2 linked regions of the Homo sapiens genome follow. The protein of the gene in region 1 interacts with the protein of each later gene in a pairwise test. Each region holds a gene or a part of one and is shown on either strand. Other genes may lie near its edges.

What was found.
Region 2: the proteins of ZNF385C (region 1) and BOLL interact in a two-hybrid assay, tested with the Homo sapiens proteins (2 studies listed by BioGRID).

What each region holds. Positions count from the first base shown.
Region 1 is NC_000017.11:42,094,022-42,102,972, forward strand, and holds the start of ZNF385C (zinc finger protein 385C), read right to left. Parts: upstream 4,453-8,951; 5' UTR 4,389-4,452; intron 1-4,388. Other genes in the region: ATP-dependent RNA helicase DHX58, read right to left, coding at 7,740-7,925, 8,195-8,291.
Region 2 is NC_000002.12:197,767,626-197,776,660, reverse strand, and holds part of BOLL (protein boule-like), read left to right. Parts: intron 1-920; coding exon 921-996; intron 997-4,678; coding exon 4,679-4,806; intron 4,807-9,035. UniProt on the Homo sapiens protein: Probable RNA-binding protein, which may be required during spermatogenesis. May act by binding to the 3'-UTR of mRNAs and regulating their translation.

The sequences.
Region 1 (8,951 bases):
TGCCCAGGCTGGAGTGCAATGGCGCAATCTTGGCTTTCTGCAACCTCTGCCTCCCAGGTACAAACGATTCTCCCACCTCAATCTCCCAAGTAGCTGAGATTACAGGCATGCGCCACCGCGCCCAGCTAATTTTGTATTTTTAGTAGAGACGGGGGTTCACCATGTTGGCCAGGCTGGTTTCGAACTTCTGACCTCAGGTGATCCACCCGCCTCAGCCTCCCAAAGTGCTAGTATTACAGGCGTGAGCCACCGTGCCTGGCTGTCACCTTCTTTCAGGACTCTTGGCTCTCCTTTTGCCGAGACTCCTCAAGAGACTAAGGCAGAGAGTCAGAGGGATACATGTCCAGACTGACAGGCAGATATAGAGAGAGGTGAAGATACAGAAAGACCCACCCAGAGAGATAGCCACGCAGTCAGACACTGAGAGTGGGAGTGTGAGAGAGAGGGACAGAGAGAGAAGGGGTAGACAGAGGAGGCAGAGAAAAAGGAAGAAGAAAAGACATAGAAAGACTCACAGAAAAAAGAGCTAGACGGGTGGAGAGGAGAGACAGAGATAACAAAGGACAGGGTCAGGAGAGGGGAAAGGACACAGATGGGGAGCACACAGGAGGCGCAGGGCCAGACACACTCACAGGCCGAAGCAGAAAGAGGCTCACGAGAACTACACAAGGACAGACAGCCTCAGGACCCAGAGACACTCTCCTGGGAGACGTGGGGGGAGCCAAAGTGCTTGGGGGTCGAGCCCCACTGGGGGTGGCCTCACCAGGGCAATGCTGCTGCCTCCTGTCCCAAAAGCTTAACCAACCGCTGCCGGCATCTGGCCCCCAGCCACCCTCTAGTAAGCCAGCCCTTGGCCACTGGAGCCAGTGGGTCACCCAAGGTGAATGAAAAGTCACCAATAAGGGACAGTGAGAGTGTGACTGGGGTGAAGGTATGGGTGTCACAAGCCATGTGTGTCAGGGTGGGTCTGACCTGGGGTGGGGTTTAGGAGCGCACAACCCTATACACAGACCTCTGGGGGTTAGTGCAGGCGGGCATGCGTACCTGAGTGAGTTTGTGAGTGTCTGTACACGTGTGTGGATCCAGTTCCATTAAGAGCCTCACGATGCTAATGAGGCCAACGTGGCAGGCTGTTCCTCAAATAGCCCAATCAGAAACAATGAGTGAGCAGAGACAGCCACAATAAAGGTTTCATGCCTCTTCTGAACAGACGGTGTGTCCAGGTGCCACAGGGCACTTGACTACAGTCAACACCAGCGTACCATTCATTCCCGCTGGGGATGACCCCCGCCGCCTGGCCAGCTGACCCCACAGTCTCCCCTGTCCCAAGCCCAAACTCCAAACTCATGGGAGAACCCACATGATAGACACATGGGCCCTCCCGGGTGGCAGGCGCAGCTCCCTCTGAGAAGGGCAGCCAGAGGGATGGTGGGGTCCAACCCTGGCTTTCCCCCAGGCTAGCTTCCATCCCTCCTGCTGCTGCGGCCCCATTTAGCTCTCTCCTTGCTCCTGGGGTCCAGTGACCCACACCCTCACCACACACAGGAGAGAAGTAACCTCTCCTCCCCAGCCCTTCCCTCTCAAGCATCACAGGACATTAAAAAAAAAATTGTCCCAGTTTTGTGGTGGATAATGAGGTCAGGAGGCCCACAGGGGAACTGCTTGTTGATGACAACTGACAATCTTCATTTCACCTTGAAACTCCGTCCTGGTCCAGGTAAGCATGTTCTAAGCCCAGTTTTATAGGGGTGCTACTCTACTGGGGGACAGGGAGAGTGGGGAAGGAATTAACCAAATGGCAGCTGAAGTCACAGGCCCAGCCAGGCCCACCTGGAACACTCACAGGGCCTGGGGCAAGGGGACAAATGGCGGCCCACAGACATATGTCTAAATATTTAAAAGTTATAAATCAAGCCAGCAAACTGTGAAATATGTTCTAACCTCTCACCCTGACAAATACACCTTCATTAACAACCTGGAGGACCAGATACAAATTTGGATTTATCTGCCTCCTGAGCTTTACACATCAGAATGACTCTGTGCAGAGGAGACAGCTCCACTCGCACCCTGGCCACCCCCCTTCCTGCTGCCGGGTCCTGTCTGCACCACAAGGGACTCTTGTGCATGTATAAGGACACCCAGCCTCATGTCCTTGCTCCATCCACAGCCCCTGCAAATAGCTGTCCCTTCACTGTCCGTAGGGGTGCACACACTATTGGCATAACCTGTCCTGAGGCAGACAGGCCCAGGGAAGAGGCTGGCATGGGCTGGGAGCCAGATGGTGACCATCTAGGCAGGGACCTCCAGAGTCACAGGTATGGAGAATGTGGTCTTGGAGGGGACTCACAGTCTCATCCCCTCGGCCCTGCTGATGCCTCATCCCACAGGGAGAGGACTGGCAGCAGGAGGGCCAGAGTGGAGCCTTTGAAAGCCCCCAGCTTAGGGCATGGGCACTCCCTCCCTTGCCCAGGTTTAAGGGTGCTACTGAACTCAGCCTTCCCTGGCAGCCTAGAGATCAGGCCAGGGCCTGAAGCTGTCCTTTCACTGGAGGACAGCTTGGACAATCCCCAAACAGGACTTTCAGTCACTCGTATTATTTATCTTCCTGGAAAAATTTAGTGCGGCTTGATCCCAACTCCTGGAGGTGGGAGGGCAGAGCAGTGATGACAAGAGGGCATTTTTTTCAGGTTGGGTCTCCAAGCCAGAGCTTGTTCCACTGAGGCACAGCCCAAGTGAGCTCCTGCTGGTACTGGTCCCTGCCTTGGGCGGGGGCGGGGGGACTCTCTCCCCTCTACAGAGACAAAAGGCAACACAAACAAGGTGACTAAAAGAGGAGGAGGTGAGGGGCCCTGGGCAGCCCAGAGAGGTCCAGAGATCCAGGAACCAGCAGGGGGCAGGTTCCCCCTGGTAGGGGGGCATGCAGTGAAGGGCACTCTTTCTAGCCAAGCTTAGCTAAAAAAAAAAAAAAAAAAACCCTTCCACTCCCCCCTCCCCTGCTCGCTCTCACTCCCTGCAGATCGGCTTTGCTGTCCCACACATGAGGGGACACTGGTACTTTCTGAGCCCTCGCCAGGCTCCAGGCACTGTGCTAAGCGCTCTACATGTGTACCCTCATTTAACCCTTGCAGCCACTCTATGAGGTGGGTTCTATTATTATCCCCATTTTACAGGTGATTAAGTGAACTCAAAGAGGTTAAGAAACTTGTTCAAGGTCACGCAGTAGGTAGAGGTGTCAGAACTCAGCTCTAACTGACCCCAAAGCCCCCACTCTTTCCACTAGAGCACATGGCCTCCCAGAAGCAAGAAGCTGGCACAGACCCAGAAGGGATGAAGGTCGGATATGAGAACGAACTTCTGCCTCTGATGGTTTGTGTGGTGAAATGAGGCAATGGAATGGGGAATCTAGACAGACAAGGAAGCCCCCCTCCCCCCATTGTCACCCGTGTCTGTCCAAAGGCTTGCGATGATCTCAGGAAGGTCCCTGGGGTCCCAGCTGGACCCAGACAGCAATGTCCTGACTTCCCTTTGTTCTATAATCCAGGGTCCTCTGCTCTACTTCAACCCAGCACCAAGACCCAAAGGCTGCCTCTCCTTAGTGGCTCAGAGCTCTGAGCATCACATTCAAGCTGTCAGCCCAGGTCCTCCTCCTCCAGGAAGGCTTCCTCGAGGTCCTGGGAGGCAGGACCCCTTTCCTACAGCCCAAATCCCAACACTGAGGGTGCAAATGCTCCCCTGTCTGCAATAAGGCCACATCTGCGATCACCTTCCCCAGCCGGCTCTGTGACACAGACACAGAAAAGATCTACTGAGTTCCCAGACTTTCCGGGTTCCCTAGGCCATCGGGGTAATCCCCTGCTCACCCCCTTGTACCCAGATGTAAATAAATGATGCAGGTGCCCTGGGGCTCATTAGAAAATCCCAGGCCCCAGCTCAGCTATGCGGCGGCTTTTACCTCATTAGCCCACGGAACAGAAGCCCAGTTTGGGTCAAGCCATCACCCCCTAGGGTGGGGAAGAGGCTGCCCTTGGATGAGGCATGGCGCACTCTCAGTCAACGAGGTTCCTTACTCCGGACCCCCGTCCTCACCATCCCCAACCTGCCCCACTCCAGAAAGCTGCGTGTCTAATGCCCGGCTCTTTCTTTTCCATCCTTTGGAGCCCGCCTGGCATCAGGGATAACCAGCCAGGACCCTCTAACTGCCCCAGAGTTCAGTCCCGCCCAGCAGATGCCCAACGTCGGCGCTCAGAGCCGAGATAGGGATATCCTCACTGTCCCTTGGGGTCCCCCAATTTTGAGGCGAGAGGACCGGACAGGTGGAAGAGGCTGCCTCGTTCTCCCGCGCTGCCCTCGAGGTCCTCGGCGTGGACTAGCCCGCGTCGCCGTCTTACCTGCGGGGCAGAGACGGAGCCCGCCGCGGCCACCTGCTCTCGCCTGGCTGGGAACGCTGCGTGTGGGGCTGGCTGGGAGGGGCGGGGCCCGGCGGGGCAGGGGCGGGGCTGGGAGGGGGAGCCGGGCCGGCCCCTCCCTCGAGGCCCCGCCGGTGGGGTGCGCGGGCTCATTCAGGTGGGAAGTCCCGGGAGAGCATCTGAGCCACAGGGAGGGCCCGGAGCTCGAGTTCTGAAGGCTGGGAAGTTAGGACTCCAGGGGGTGCGGGGGGTGGGTGGGAATTCCCCGCTTCAGACAGCCTCGCCCAGATGCCCTGGAGAGGGTGACTTCATATAAAGACCCCTCACACGAAGAAGAAAGCTCAGAAACCTCTCCTGGCCTGAGTCCCCTTCCATCTGAGCTCTTCGGGCCTGGCAGGGTTGGGTGTGAGACGGGACACTCCTCTAAAGTAAGGGTGCCCTCTCCAGGGCTCAGCTGTGTAGGGGTTTAGGCCGCTGAGGGGGCCATTAGGCAACCAGACCATCTTTATCCTCAGCCCATCTCCCTCCCTGCCACACAGCCCCTCCTCCGCCCCCAGCGCCAGCCCAGGTCCCCCAGCTGTCACTGTTTAGCCCTGGAATGACAGGCGTCCTGACTCCGTGAGTCTAGCCACATTCAAGGCCTTTGAGCTTAGCACCCCTGAGCCCCTGCCCCCTCCCTCTGCCCCCAGTCGCTAATTTTATTGACCTGTAAAAGGCACGTTGCTGGCAGGCAGTATACTAACTGAAGGCAAAGTGGGGAGCGGATGGGCAACTCTCCCCCCGGGAAGGCAGCTGGAGATGGGACAGGAGGGAGGAGGAAGGAGACTCCTGGATCCAGGGCCAAGGACACTTTGAGAGGAGGAAGAGGGGGGCCTTGGGAAAGAGAAGTACACTGTCTATGGGAGATGGTAGCCAAAAAGACGGGAACGGGAATTTCAGCCCTCAATCAGACAAGAGGCCTACAGAAAAAAGAAAATGCTGGGAGAAGACAGGGTGCATTTCTCATCTACCTGGGGACAGAACCAAGAATGTAGCAGGAGGGAAGGAGGTTGGACGGCAGGAAGGACTGCCATCCTGCTCTCAAATCTCTGCCCTAGCCCCCTCCCTTCCTCTTGAAGGTGTCTCCTGCCTGCTGGGCCTTGTACTACAGAAATAGCCCTTTCCCTGATGAAGCAACCTAGATCTTGCCTTTCTTTTTCTTTCTTGTTAAAATGAGAACAGAAAATTTAGGCCTTTGTAATTTTCCCCACCCCCGTGCCTACCTGAGCCCACCCCTCAAACCCTGGATCTCAGCCTTTCCCCAGCCTAGGGGAGATGATCTGAGGGTTAAGGGAAGGTGGAGAGGGGAATATCGGGGTTGGAAGCTATTATGGGGTAGGGGGAGCAGGAAGCCCTCACACTCTTGATGGGCCTCAAGTTTAGACTGTTGATACCCTTTATGAATAAGGCTTAGGAGGGCTATTAAAGAGGAGTGTTTAAAACTTCTTTTATTTTTTTATTTTTGAGATGGAGTCTTACTGTGTTGTCCAGGCTGCAGTGCAGTGGCATGATCTCGGCTCACTGCAAACTCCGTCTCCCAGGTTCAAGTGAGTCTCCTGCCTCAGCCTCCTGAGTAGCTGGAATTACAGGGGCCTGCCACTATGTGAGGCTAATTTTTGTAATTTTTAGTAGAGATGGGGTTTCACCGAAATGGCCAGGCTTGTCTCCAACCCCTGACCCCAGGTGATCTGCCCACCTCGGCCTCCCAAAGTGCTGGGATTACAAGCGTGAGAAAATGCGCCTGGCCTAAAACTTTTAACACTAGGTCAGGCACAGTGGCTCATACCTGTGATCCCAGCACTTTGGGAGGATCACCTGAGCCCAGTAGTTGGAGATCAGCCTAGGCAACATAGTGAGAACTTGTCTGTACACTGCCCCTCTACCCCCCAAAAATTAGGTGTGGTGGTATACATCTGTAGTCCCAGGTACCAGGGAGGTTGAGGTGGGGGGATTGCTTAAGCCTGGGAGGTTGAGGCTGAAGTGAGCCATGATTGTACTACGGTACTCTAGCTTGGGCGACAGAGCGAGTCCCTGTCTCAAAAACAAAATAAGAACAAAAACAAAAAAAAAAAGGCCGGGCCCAGTGGCTCATGCATGTAATCCCAGTACTTTAAGAGGCCGAGGTGGGTGGATCACCTGAGCTCAGGTGTTTGAGACCAGCCTGTTGGGCAACATGGCGAAACCCTGTCTCTACCAAAAATACAAAAATTAGCCAGGCATGGTGGCAGGCACCTGTAATCCCAGCTACTTGGGAGGCTGAGGCAGGAGGATCACTTGAGCCCTGAAGGCAGAGGTTGCAGTGAGCTGAGATCGCGCCACTGCACTCCAGCCTGGGCGACAGAGTGAGACTGTCTCAAAAAAGCCAAACACTTTTAACACTAAAAATTACAAAGCAGGTCATTGGATGGGGAAGGGTGAGAGGTATGGATTTCAATGGGGAACCAGGAAACTTTTGTTGTTCTTTGAAAATTCCACTGGAAGAAACAGGACATTTTGAGGGTGATGGCTATGTTCATTATCTTGATCGTGGAGGATATGCATGTTAAAATGTATCCAGGCCAGGGATGGTGGCTCACGCTTGTAATCTCAGCACTTTGGGAGGCTGAGGCAGGCAGATCGCCTGAGGTCAGGAGTTTGAGAACTACCTGGCCAACATGGTGAAATCCCATCTCTACTAAAAATACAAGAAATTAGCTGGGCATGGTGGCGGGCACCTGTAATCCCAGCTACTTGGGAGGCTGAGGCAGGAGAATCGCTTGAACTCAGGAGGTGGAGGTTGCAGTGAGCCAAGATCGTGTGACTGTACTCCAGCCTGGGCAACAAGAGTGAAACTCCATGTCAAAAAATAAAACAATTTTAAAAAAGTACCCAATTGCACACTATACAAGCAGTTTATTTTCTACCAATTATATTCCAACAAAATTAAGACACCACACATTTTCTATCCCATTTTTTCATTTATTTTTATGAGGAGCCTCAAAAAATAGAAGTGGCCTTGGTAGGGAAGGAATGTCGTGATTCTGAGTACAGTATGGCAAATTCTTTTGCCTCAGTTTCCCTAACTCCATCCAGTGCATATGAAAATGTCTATGTGCGTACAAGGTAGGTCTGGACTAAGCTCTGGCCCTCCGGTTGTTTTCCCATTGCGGGAGCCTAAGCCAGGGTGCCCAGGACTCCTGTGTGGCTGGTGGGCCTGATGCCCACAGCTGATGATTCAGGAAGGAGGGGCCTGGAGTCTGCTGCAGACTCTCCCGCCCCCTACAGCCCAAACCGGGCACTGCAGCAATGAGGTGGTCAGTCCAGGGAGAGGTCCGACAAGTTCTCGGCACAATGCTGCAGGAAGTCAAAGTCAGGCACGGAGAAGGGCACGCGGGACCACTTTTTGGCCTGGATCCGCCCCTGAGGGGTCTCCAGCAGCATGCTGCGGACTTTGAGCACTGGCAGCTTCACTGACTTGTAGATCATCTGCAGACCCCAGACCTGGAGGTGAGACAGAGAGGGTAGGGTCTGGGTCTCTGGCCTCAGACTGGGCTTCTCTCCTCAAGTTGGAATTCCCTGAATACAGGGCCTTTTCCTCCCACCTGAGATGTCACAGACTGTGGGCTCCCTTAGGGAGGGGCTGGACCTCCCTCTTCAGACTGGAGGCCATGGGGTGGGACTGTCTCCCGTGTCCTAGTGAGGGCTCCCTGAGGGCCTCTGAAGACTGGGGCTGAGGACTCTGGGGCCTGGGACGTGGCCTAAGCTCTTACCTCCCCACAGTTCCTGCAGCTGATGACACCCCCAGGCTTCCAGTCCTTGAAGACTTTGTTGATGACCACAGGATCCCTGGAGACATTATAGTAGTTCCTGGAGAGGAAGGGGGGTGGCCACAGCCCTCATTGACCCTCCTCAGCCCCGGATCTCATGCCCTCCTGCCGGCCAAGTCTCTGCCTGGACCTTGGGCCTTCCTGCTGGTTAAGAGGCACAGACTTCCCAGGCCAGGAAATCCAATCTTTGGTGAGTTCTACCTGTGTGGCCTCCATCGCACGTTCCCTTGTGCCCAGGTTCAAGCCTCAGCATCGGTTACCTGGTCTTCACAGTCTCCTTATGGGTCTCTCTGCCTCCATTTTTACTCCCAATCCCAAGCCATCCTTCCACCAACTGCTAGAGGGATCTAAAAATATAAATCTGCCCTGACATTCTGTTCCTTAAAATCTATCCAAGATTCCTAAGAGGAACCTCCTGGATAAAGGCTACACTTTCACACCTGACCTTTCAAATCTTCCACGGGCTAGTCTGTCTTTTTCTAAATCTCATTATTCACAGTCCCTTCCACTCAGGTCAACTGGTGTCGCTTTTTTTTTTTTAAAGGCAGAGTCTCACTCTATTGCCCAGGCTGGAGTGCAGTGGTGCGATCTTGGCTTGCCTCCCGGGTTCAAGTGATTCTCATGCCTCAGCCACCCAAGTAGCTGGGATTACAAGCATGGGCCACCACGCCCAGCTAATTTTTGTATTTTTTTTTAGTAG
Region 2 (9,035 bases), on another chromosome or scaffold:
TAATAACTTTAAGTTAAGGCAAATATAACATTTAACTTTTTTAGAAAAAAAGTAGAATTTGAATTGTATGTTATTAAAATCAAATACAGTCAATTCTTGTTATTTGTGGCAGTTATGTTCTCTAACATTGCTAGGAACACTGAATTAGCAAATGCTGAACTCCTCTTTCTAGGGGAAGTACAAGGTAATGTTCCCAAGAACCTCTGGTCACAATATTGCCATCAACCTATCAATATATAACCTTGTTTTATATGGTTTTCCATTTAAAGGCATCATATATAACAGATTACTGGTTCATTAACATTGAAGCCATGGCCAATAGCACTATAATTCATGCTTGAATTAAGCACATCTAATATATATATTCTCCATAATGCCTATGACAGTCTTCTTGTGCTAGCCAGCACTTCAACAATACACATGGGGGCCATTTTAAATAGCCAAATCACCAACAAAAAGCACAAAAATGGAGAAAACATGGCACTAAATAGAAAGCTCTCTCTTAGAGTATGAGCACTGGAACAAGAAGAAAGAATATCGCCTTATTTGACCTCAACTGGGAGCATGCGCATCAGGCTACTCAAATTTTCCGCCGCTCTTCACGTGTCCACTAATAACCTCAAAATTGCCACAAATATTAATTTTAGGATTACAAGTAAATTTTAGCAAGTAGGCAAATTCACAAATACAGAATCCATGAGTAATGAGGATTGACTGTATTACAAATGGAGAAAATGGGGAATTGCGGTCAGACCCAGATCTATTTCAGTCTGAAGACGGCTCTTTCCCACTATTCCTTGCTGCTTTGAAAGAATATTATAGTCTGAATTTTTGAAATTCTTTCTAACTAGTTTTTCCTTATTGATTTTATAAATAATAGTGCTAAAATAATAAAATAATTTCTTTTTTCTTTATTTTAGGCTGAAAAACTTAATTATAAGGATAAGAAGCTGAACATTGGTCCAGCAATAAGAAAACAACAAGTAGGGATCCCTCGTATGTATTGAGAACTAATGTATTTTTAAATATTTTTGCATGGTTCTTTTTTGAAATATAAGACTTTTTATAGAACTTTATTAAAAGATCATGTTTCTTTCATCTAATAAAGTTATTTTAGCAAAGTTGGTGGAAAAACTGAATATTTTTGCCACAAAATAATATATCTCAATTTTTTTGGCTGGGAAAAAATTTATATACATAAAGATGCTTAAGTATATTCCATGTAGTTACATCATTAAAGGAAAAAAAATCTTTCGTGATGAAAATATCATTTAATATAGCAAAAGTAATTAGAAGTAATTTAATAATTTAGACTTACTAATGAGAAAAATTTTAATTAGAAACTAATTTAAAATTAATCAGAGTAAAAATATTGAAAGTGAAAACATAGAACTAATATCAGAAACTCGCTGCATGCTGTGTACTGTAACCCAGCCAGGTGTGTCATAATTTTCAGGGGGACAATCCCTAAAGCTTTAGGAATTGGCTAAATTATGTATCTACCTTCCTCAAATTTCTCTAATGCTTTCAATTCTATCTTTCCTCACTCTTTCTACTTATTAAGTTAGGCATCTTTATAGTTAACTTTTTACCTTTAATATTTATTAAAATTCCTAACAGTCTTTGGCTAGAAGGAGAAATGTGATGTAAAATTTATAACTAACTTATTTTCCCTTAGCCACATCCTAGTGTCTACGGGAATGTTTAAAACATTAGGTTATTATATATAATCTGTTAACAAATTAATAGATTGTATTCATTTGGACTGTTATGCTTTTGACTTAGAAATAATAGATATTTGGTTAATACAGTTGCCACAACTACAACAAAAAAGAGATTGATGTATATTAAGTTTAATTTTGACTTAGTATTTGTTAATTTAGGAGACAATCAAAGTATCCTCAGTAGGTTAATACAAAATGGAATGCACTAAATATGGCAGAATGCTGAATATTTTCAATCTACTGTTGTTACTTGCAAAGGTTAAGCTAGAACATATAGTAACGGTCCGTTAGCCCATTATCACCAGCAATATGTACTAAATAGTAATGCTCATAGTATGATCTACCAGTTGCTGAAATAGAAAATAAATCAGCACTATGCTGAATGCTTTCACATATACAAATAGTTTTTTCAAAACTACTTAGTGCAAGGGTCAATGTTATGAGTTTTCATTTAATCTTCATAGAATCCCATGATGTATTGTTATCTCTATTTTTGTAAATAGAAAATTCAATCCCAAAAAGATAAAGTCATTGTTTTAAAAATGTTTCTGCTGAAATACTCCTAAAGGTAGAGGAGAGTTAATCTTGGCATGTTGTGGTTCCTAACCCACTGCAGCATACTGGAATTGCAAATTTTCTTTAAAGTCTCATGATTTATGCAAAAACATCATGTATAATTTGCATTCTGTTCCATAATATCATATTGTTTATTTGAATATAAAAATATTTCCCAAAAACAATTGAATAAAACTGATTCTGTAGGAAGATTACTATGTTCAGCCTCTGCTTTTTCATATCTCCTGGTATACCATCCATCCCTTATCCAACTTTAAGAAGTATGGGGTTAAATAGCCTAATGGTGAGTGGTAGCACTAGCCTTCAAATGCAGGACTGTTTGACTCCAAAGTTCTTTTGACTTTTCTGCGAAGAAAAATAGGTGTTAAAAGTACATTTACAAATAAGGGATTCTTATCTTAGTTTTTTCTTAGATCTGTCATTTCTTTCCATCTCCATTACCAACACCCGAGTCCCAACTAACCACTTTGTTTACCTTAATTCCTGGAAAAACATCCTAAGTGGTCTCTCTGAATCCAATCTTTCTACCTTCCAATCCATCATTCACAAGGCAGCCAGAGTGATCTTTCAAAAGTGCACCTCTTATTGTCTTATGCTCAGCTTATTTTGAGGTATTCTTCCCTTTTCTTTCCATGCTTTAGCCATGTAGCCTTCTTTCAGTTCCAGAACATTCTATACTCCTGTTCTCAGAATCTAATATACTGTTTTCTTTACCTAGAATGTACTTTGCCATCCAATTCATTCTTTAGAGCTTAGCTGAACATCATTTCATCACAAATTTTCCATATATATGTATATAGAGAGAAATTTTATATATGTTTTGTATACATAATAATTGAAATGTTCAGTATCGTACCCTATAATGCCTCATGTATTTATCAAAATTGTATTTAATTAATTAATTGTGTAATCAACTAATGACTATCTTCACTACCAGACCTAACTTCTTTGAGGATACAGACCATCTCATGTCTAATTTTTTTATTTTTTGCTGTATCACTAGGGCCCTGTTCAATGCCTTGAAATAGTATGCACTGAAAATTTATTTATTTAGCAGGTAAAGCATGGTTCATTTTCTTTGAATAATGAACCATTATTGAATAATGAACCATTATCATTATCTTTGAATAATAGTGGAATATCTTTTGGGGGGAATCCATGGACCTCCAAAATTGTGTGTAAAATTGTGTTTGACTGTATATATATCTGAGGAAAAGGTCCCTGATTTTCATCAAATTCTCAAAAGGATCTAATTAAGAACCATTAAAATAAATAATAACAATACTAGATCAAATGCAGTGAAAATATAAAAGCTGAGGAGCAATAGTATTATTTAAAGTGGTAGGCCCATGCTATTTGAAGTGTGGTTTGCAGACAGTGTCATTTCATTGGAAGCTGTCAAAATGCAAATTCTTAGGCCCTGTCCCAGATTTACTGACTCAAAATCTCTGAAGATAAGTCCCTGGAATTTGCATTTTAGAAAACAATTTAAGTGATTCTAATTTATGGGAAATTTTGAGAAGCACTGGTATAGGTGGAAGAATTGTCAGTTTCACTAATTTATATAACCTTGCTGGTTAAGACCTAATCTAATTTGGCTAATTTAACTTTTAAAGTCTCCTCAATGACAAAAAATATATATATATCTATGTATATTATTTACTGTTTTTTGGTTTGTGGTGGGGGTTTATATAACTTGGCCCGGGAAAAGAGTTGGGGACCCCAGACTAGCCACATGAAGACTTGCGGTCATGTTTGCAACAGCAGCAGTTGTAGCAAAGGGAGACTAGATAGAGAATAGATCATAGAAAAGAGAGATAAAAGACAGCCATAGCATGAACGAATGTTTGCTGGTAGGATATCCAAAGAATTAGTAGGGTGGAACCAAAATGTCTTCAGGAAAGTAGAATCTTCTCCAACTTTACTGCCTCCATCATCTTTGGACTTTCAGAAATAAAAGGTCTAGCCAAGACCTTAGGAACTTCACTACAGTGTATGTTGTCTTGAAGTAACTTTAAATTATACATAATTTATATTTGTACAAATAATTACTTCGCTGATGATAGTCTAAATTGTTCAGCTTTGTGTAGCATACTGGTGTTGGAATCTGAATTGATACATTTTTGGTATTTCTTATTCGTATTGTTTTTCTTTTCTTTTAATCATCTTAAACTAAAAGCTTTAAGGTATTGAGTTTAAAAATACAGGCTTCAAAGATACTTTGACATAAGGAATTTTTTAAAAATATCTGTGACATTCAATTTTTACCATAGCTACATAGGTATATTAAGATAAATATTTTTCTGAAGTGTTTAGAAACTACATTTTTAACAGTTAAATTGAACATTTCAATTATTATTATTTAATCTTTGCTTTAGGTTCTAGTATAATGCCAGCAGCTGGAACAATGTATCTAACAACTTCAACTGGATATCCTTATACTTACCATAATGGTGTTGCTTATTTTCATACTCCAGAGGTAACTTCGGTCCCACCGCCTTGGCCTGTAAGTAATTTCATTTAAAAAAGGATTTCCATCTATTACTATCAATTTTTTAATGTTTGTTATATTTCTGAAATATCTTAACCACAGATAATTACAAATAATAACACACATCAACCAAATTAAATAGACATCAACATTTTGCCACATTTACTTAAGTTCTTAAAATGGGGAGTAAAGTAAGACAGCTTCAGGTCAATTCTCCTTACCCCCACTTCCTTACCCTCTTTCCTGTTCAAAAGTAAGCAGAATATCTTTCCTATTCATTTTATATATTTTTACTACAAATATATGTATTCATAAATGACATATAGTACTGCTTTAGTGGTTTTTATTTTTTATTTTTTGCATTTCTTTTTTTTATATACTTTAAGTTCTAGGGTACATGTGCACAACGTGCAGGTTTGTTACATATGTATACATGTGCCATGTTGGTGTGCTGTACCTGTTAACTCGTCATTTACATTAGGTACATCTCCTAATGCTATCCCTCCCCCCTCCCCCCACCCCACAACAGGCCCTGGTGTGTGATGGTCCCCATCCTCTGTCCAAGTGTTCTCATTGTTCAATTCCCACCTATGAGTGAGACCATATGGTGTTTGGTTTTCTGTCCTTGCAATAGCTTGCTCAGAATGATGGTTTCCAGCTTCATCCATATCCCTGCAAAGCACACGAACTCATCCTTTTTATGGCTGCATAGTATTCCATTGTGTATATGTGCCACATTTTCTTAATCCACTCTATCATTGATGGGCATTTGGGTTGGTTCCAAGTCTTTGCTATTGTGAATAGTGCCGCAGTAAACATACGTTTACATGTTTCTTTATAGCAGCATGATTTATAATCCTATGGGTATATACCCAGTAATGGGATGGCTGGGTCAAATGGTATTTCTAGTTCTAGATCCTTGAGAAATCGCCACACTGACTTCCACAATGGTTGAACTAGTTTACACTCCCACCAACAGTGTAAAAGTGCTCCTATTTCTCCATATCCCCTCCAGCACCTGTTGTTTCCTGACTTTTTAATGATCGCCATTCTAACTGATGTGAGATGGTATCTCACTGTGGTTTTGATTTGCATTTCTCTGATGGCCAGTGATGATGAGCATTTTTTCATGTGTCTTTTGGCTGCATAAATGTCTTCTTTTAAGAAGTGTCTGTTAATATCCTTCACCCACTTTTTGATGGGGTTGTTTGATTTTTTTCTTGTAAGTTTGTTTAAGTTCTTAGTAGATTCTGGATATTAGCCCTTTGTCAGATGGGTAGATTGCAAAAATTTTCTCCCATTCTGTAGGTTGCCTGTTCACTCTGATGGCAGTTTCTTTTGCTGTGCAGAAGCTCTTTAGTTTAATTAGATCCCATTTGTCAATTTTGGATTTGTGGCCATGGCTTTTGGTGTTTTAGACATGAAGTCCTTGCCCATGCCTATATCCTGAATGGTATTGCCTAGGTTTTCTCCTAGGGTTTTTATGGTTTTGGGTCTAACATTTGAAGTCTTTAATCTATCTTGAATTAATTTTTGTATAAGGTGTAAGGAAGGGATCCAGTTTCAGCTTTCTACATATGGCTAGCCAGTTTTCCTAGCACCATTTATTAAATAGGGAATCCTTTCCCCATTTCTTGTTTTTGTCAGGTTTGTCAAATATCAGATGGTTGTAGATGTGTAGTGTTATTTCTGAGGCCTCTGTTCTGTTGGTCTATATCTCTGTTTTGGTACCAGTACTATGCTGTTTTGGTTACTGTAGCCTTGTAGTATAGTTTGAAGTCAGCTAGCGTGATGCCTCCAGCTTTGTTCTTTTTGCTTAAGATTGTCTTGGCAATGTGGGCTCTTTTTTGGTTCCATATGAACTTTAAAGTAGTTTCTTCCAATTCTGTGAAGAAAGTCATTGGTAGCTTGATGGGGATGGCATTGAATCTATAAATTACCTTGGGCAGTATGGCCATTTTCACAATATTGATTCTTCCTATCCATGAGCACGGAATGTTCTCCCATTTGTTTGTGTCCTCTTTTATTTCGTTGAGCAGTGGTTTGTAGTTCTCCTTGAAGAGGTCCTTCACATCCCTTGTAAGTTGGATTCCTAGGTATTTTATTCTCTTTGAAGCAATTGTGAATGGGCGTTCACCCATGGTTTGGCTCTCTGTTTGTCTGTTATTGTGTATAGGAATGCTTGTGATTTTTGCACATCGATTTTGTATCCTGAGACTTTGCTGAAGTTGCTTATCAGCTTAAGGAGATTTTGGGCTGAGATGATGGGGTTTTCTAAATATACAATCATGTCATCTGCAAAGAGGGACAATTTGACTTCCTCTTTTCCTAATTGAATACCCTTTATTTCTTTCTCCTGCCTGATTGCCCTGGCCAGAACTTTCAACACTGTGTTGAATAGGAGTGAAGAGAGAGGGCTCTACGCCAATAAACTAGAAAATCTAGAAGAAATGGATAAATTCCTGGACACATACACCCTCCCAAGACTAAACCAGGAAGAAGTTGAATCTCTGAATAGGCCAATAACAGGCTCTGAAATTGAGGCAATCATTAATAGACTACCAAATAAAAAAATTCCAGGACCAGACAGATTCACAGCCGAATTTTACCAGAGGTACAAAGAGGAGCTGGTACCATTCCTTCTGAAGCTATTTCAATCAATAGATAAAGAGAGAATCCTCCCTAACTCATTTTATGAGGCCAGCATCATCCTGATACCAAAGCCTGGCAGAGACACAACAAAAAAAGAGAATTTTAGACCAATATCCTTGATGAACATTGATGCAAAAATCCTCAATAAAATACTGGCAAACCGAATCCAGCAGCACATCAAAAAGCTTATCCACCATAATCAAGTTGGCTTCATCCCTGGGATGCAAGGCTGGTTCAACATCACGAATCAATAAACATAATCCATCACATAAACAGACCCAACGACAAAAACCACATGATTAATCTCAATAGATGCAGGAAAGGCCTTCGACAAAATTCAACAGCCCTTCATGCTAAAAACTCTCAATAAACTAGGTATTGATGGAACGTATCTCAAAATAATAAGAGCTATTTATGATAAACCCACAGTCAGTATCATACTAGATGGGCAAAAACTGGAAGTATTCCCTTTGAAAACTGGCACAAGATTTTTTCTTCTTTTTTAGTTTTTTGTTTTTTACTACAAGAATATATGCTATTTTTTATTTTTAATGCTATAGTATTGCCACTTTTCACTTCTAGATCTTAAATCTTGAATTTATGTATCGACTAATCCACCTATTTCCTGCTATTTTGAAATTAATCCTCTGCCAAACACTAAGTTTCCATGTGTGTGGGTCTTTTTTCTGCTATTTTGTTCCATTGGTGTATTTGTTCACCTTGCCCAGTTGTAATTATTTTGACTTTATAACGAGTCTTGAAATCTTAAAGTACATTGTTCATCTTCAGGAGTCTCTCATCTATCCTTATGTCTTTGCTTTTATGTGTATAAATTTTTTAATTCAGTTTGTTTAGTTCAGTGAAAAGCCCTTTTTTTTATTAGAATTGCATTAAATAGTGTGAATAACTTGGGACATTTCAGTATTTTAAAATATTGAATCTTCCTATCCATGAACATGATACATCTCTCCATTTATTTGTCTTATTTTACTTCTATCCATAAAAAAGTTTTCTTTCTCCATAAAAAAGCGTGACACATTTTGTCAAATTTATTCTTAGTAGACTATAGTTTTGTTGCTTTAATGAATGCTGTTTTTTAAATAACATTTCCTAATAGATTGTAGCTGGTGTATAGTAATGCTCTTGATTTTTCAATAGTGATAATCTATCAGTAACCCTGCCAAACTCTCATTTACACAATTATTTATGATTCAGTGTACTTCTATTTCTTTCACTTCTTTTTTTCCTGGAGTTTTTGCACTGACCATGTCTCTGCTACAGTATTGATGTAGTGAAAACATCATGACCTTGTTCTTGAAAAAGGGAGCAATTTCAGTGATTCACCATTAAACTTTACATGTATGCATGCATGTATACATACATATATAGACACACACACGCATACTTTGTAAGTGGGAAGATACTCTTAACCAGACTTTCTCAATCTTAGCACTGTTGACATTTTGAGCCAGATTATTTCTTTGCTGTGAAGGTCTGTCCTGTGCACTGTAGGATGTTTAGAAGTATCCCTAGGCTCCCCATAGTTATGATAATCAAAAATGTCTCCCAACATTGCCAGATGTTCCCTATAG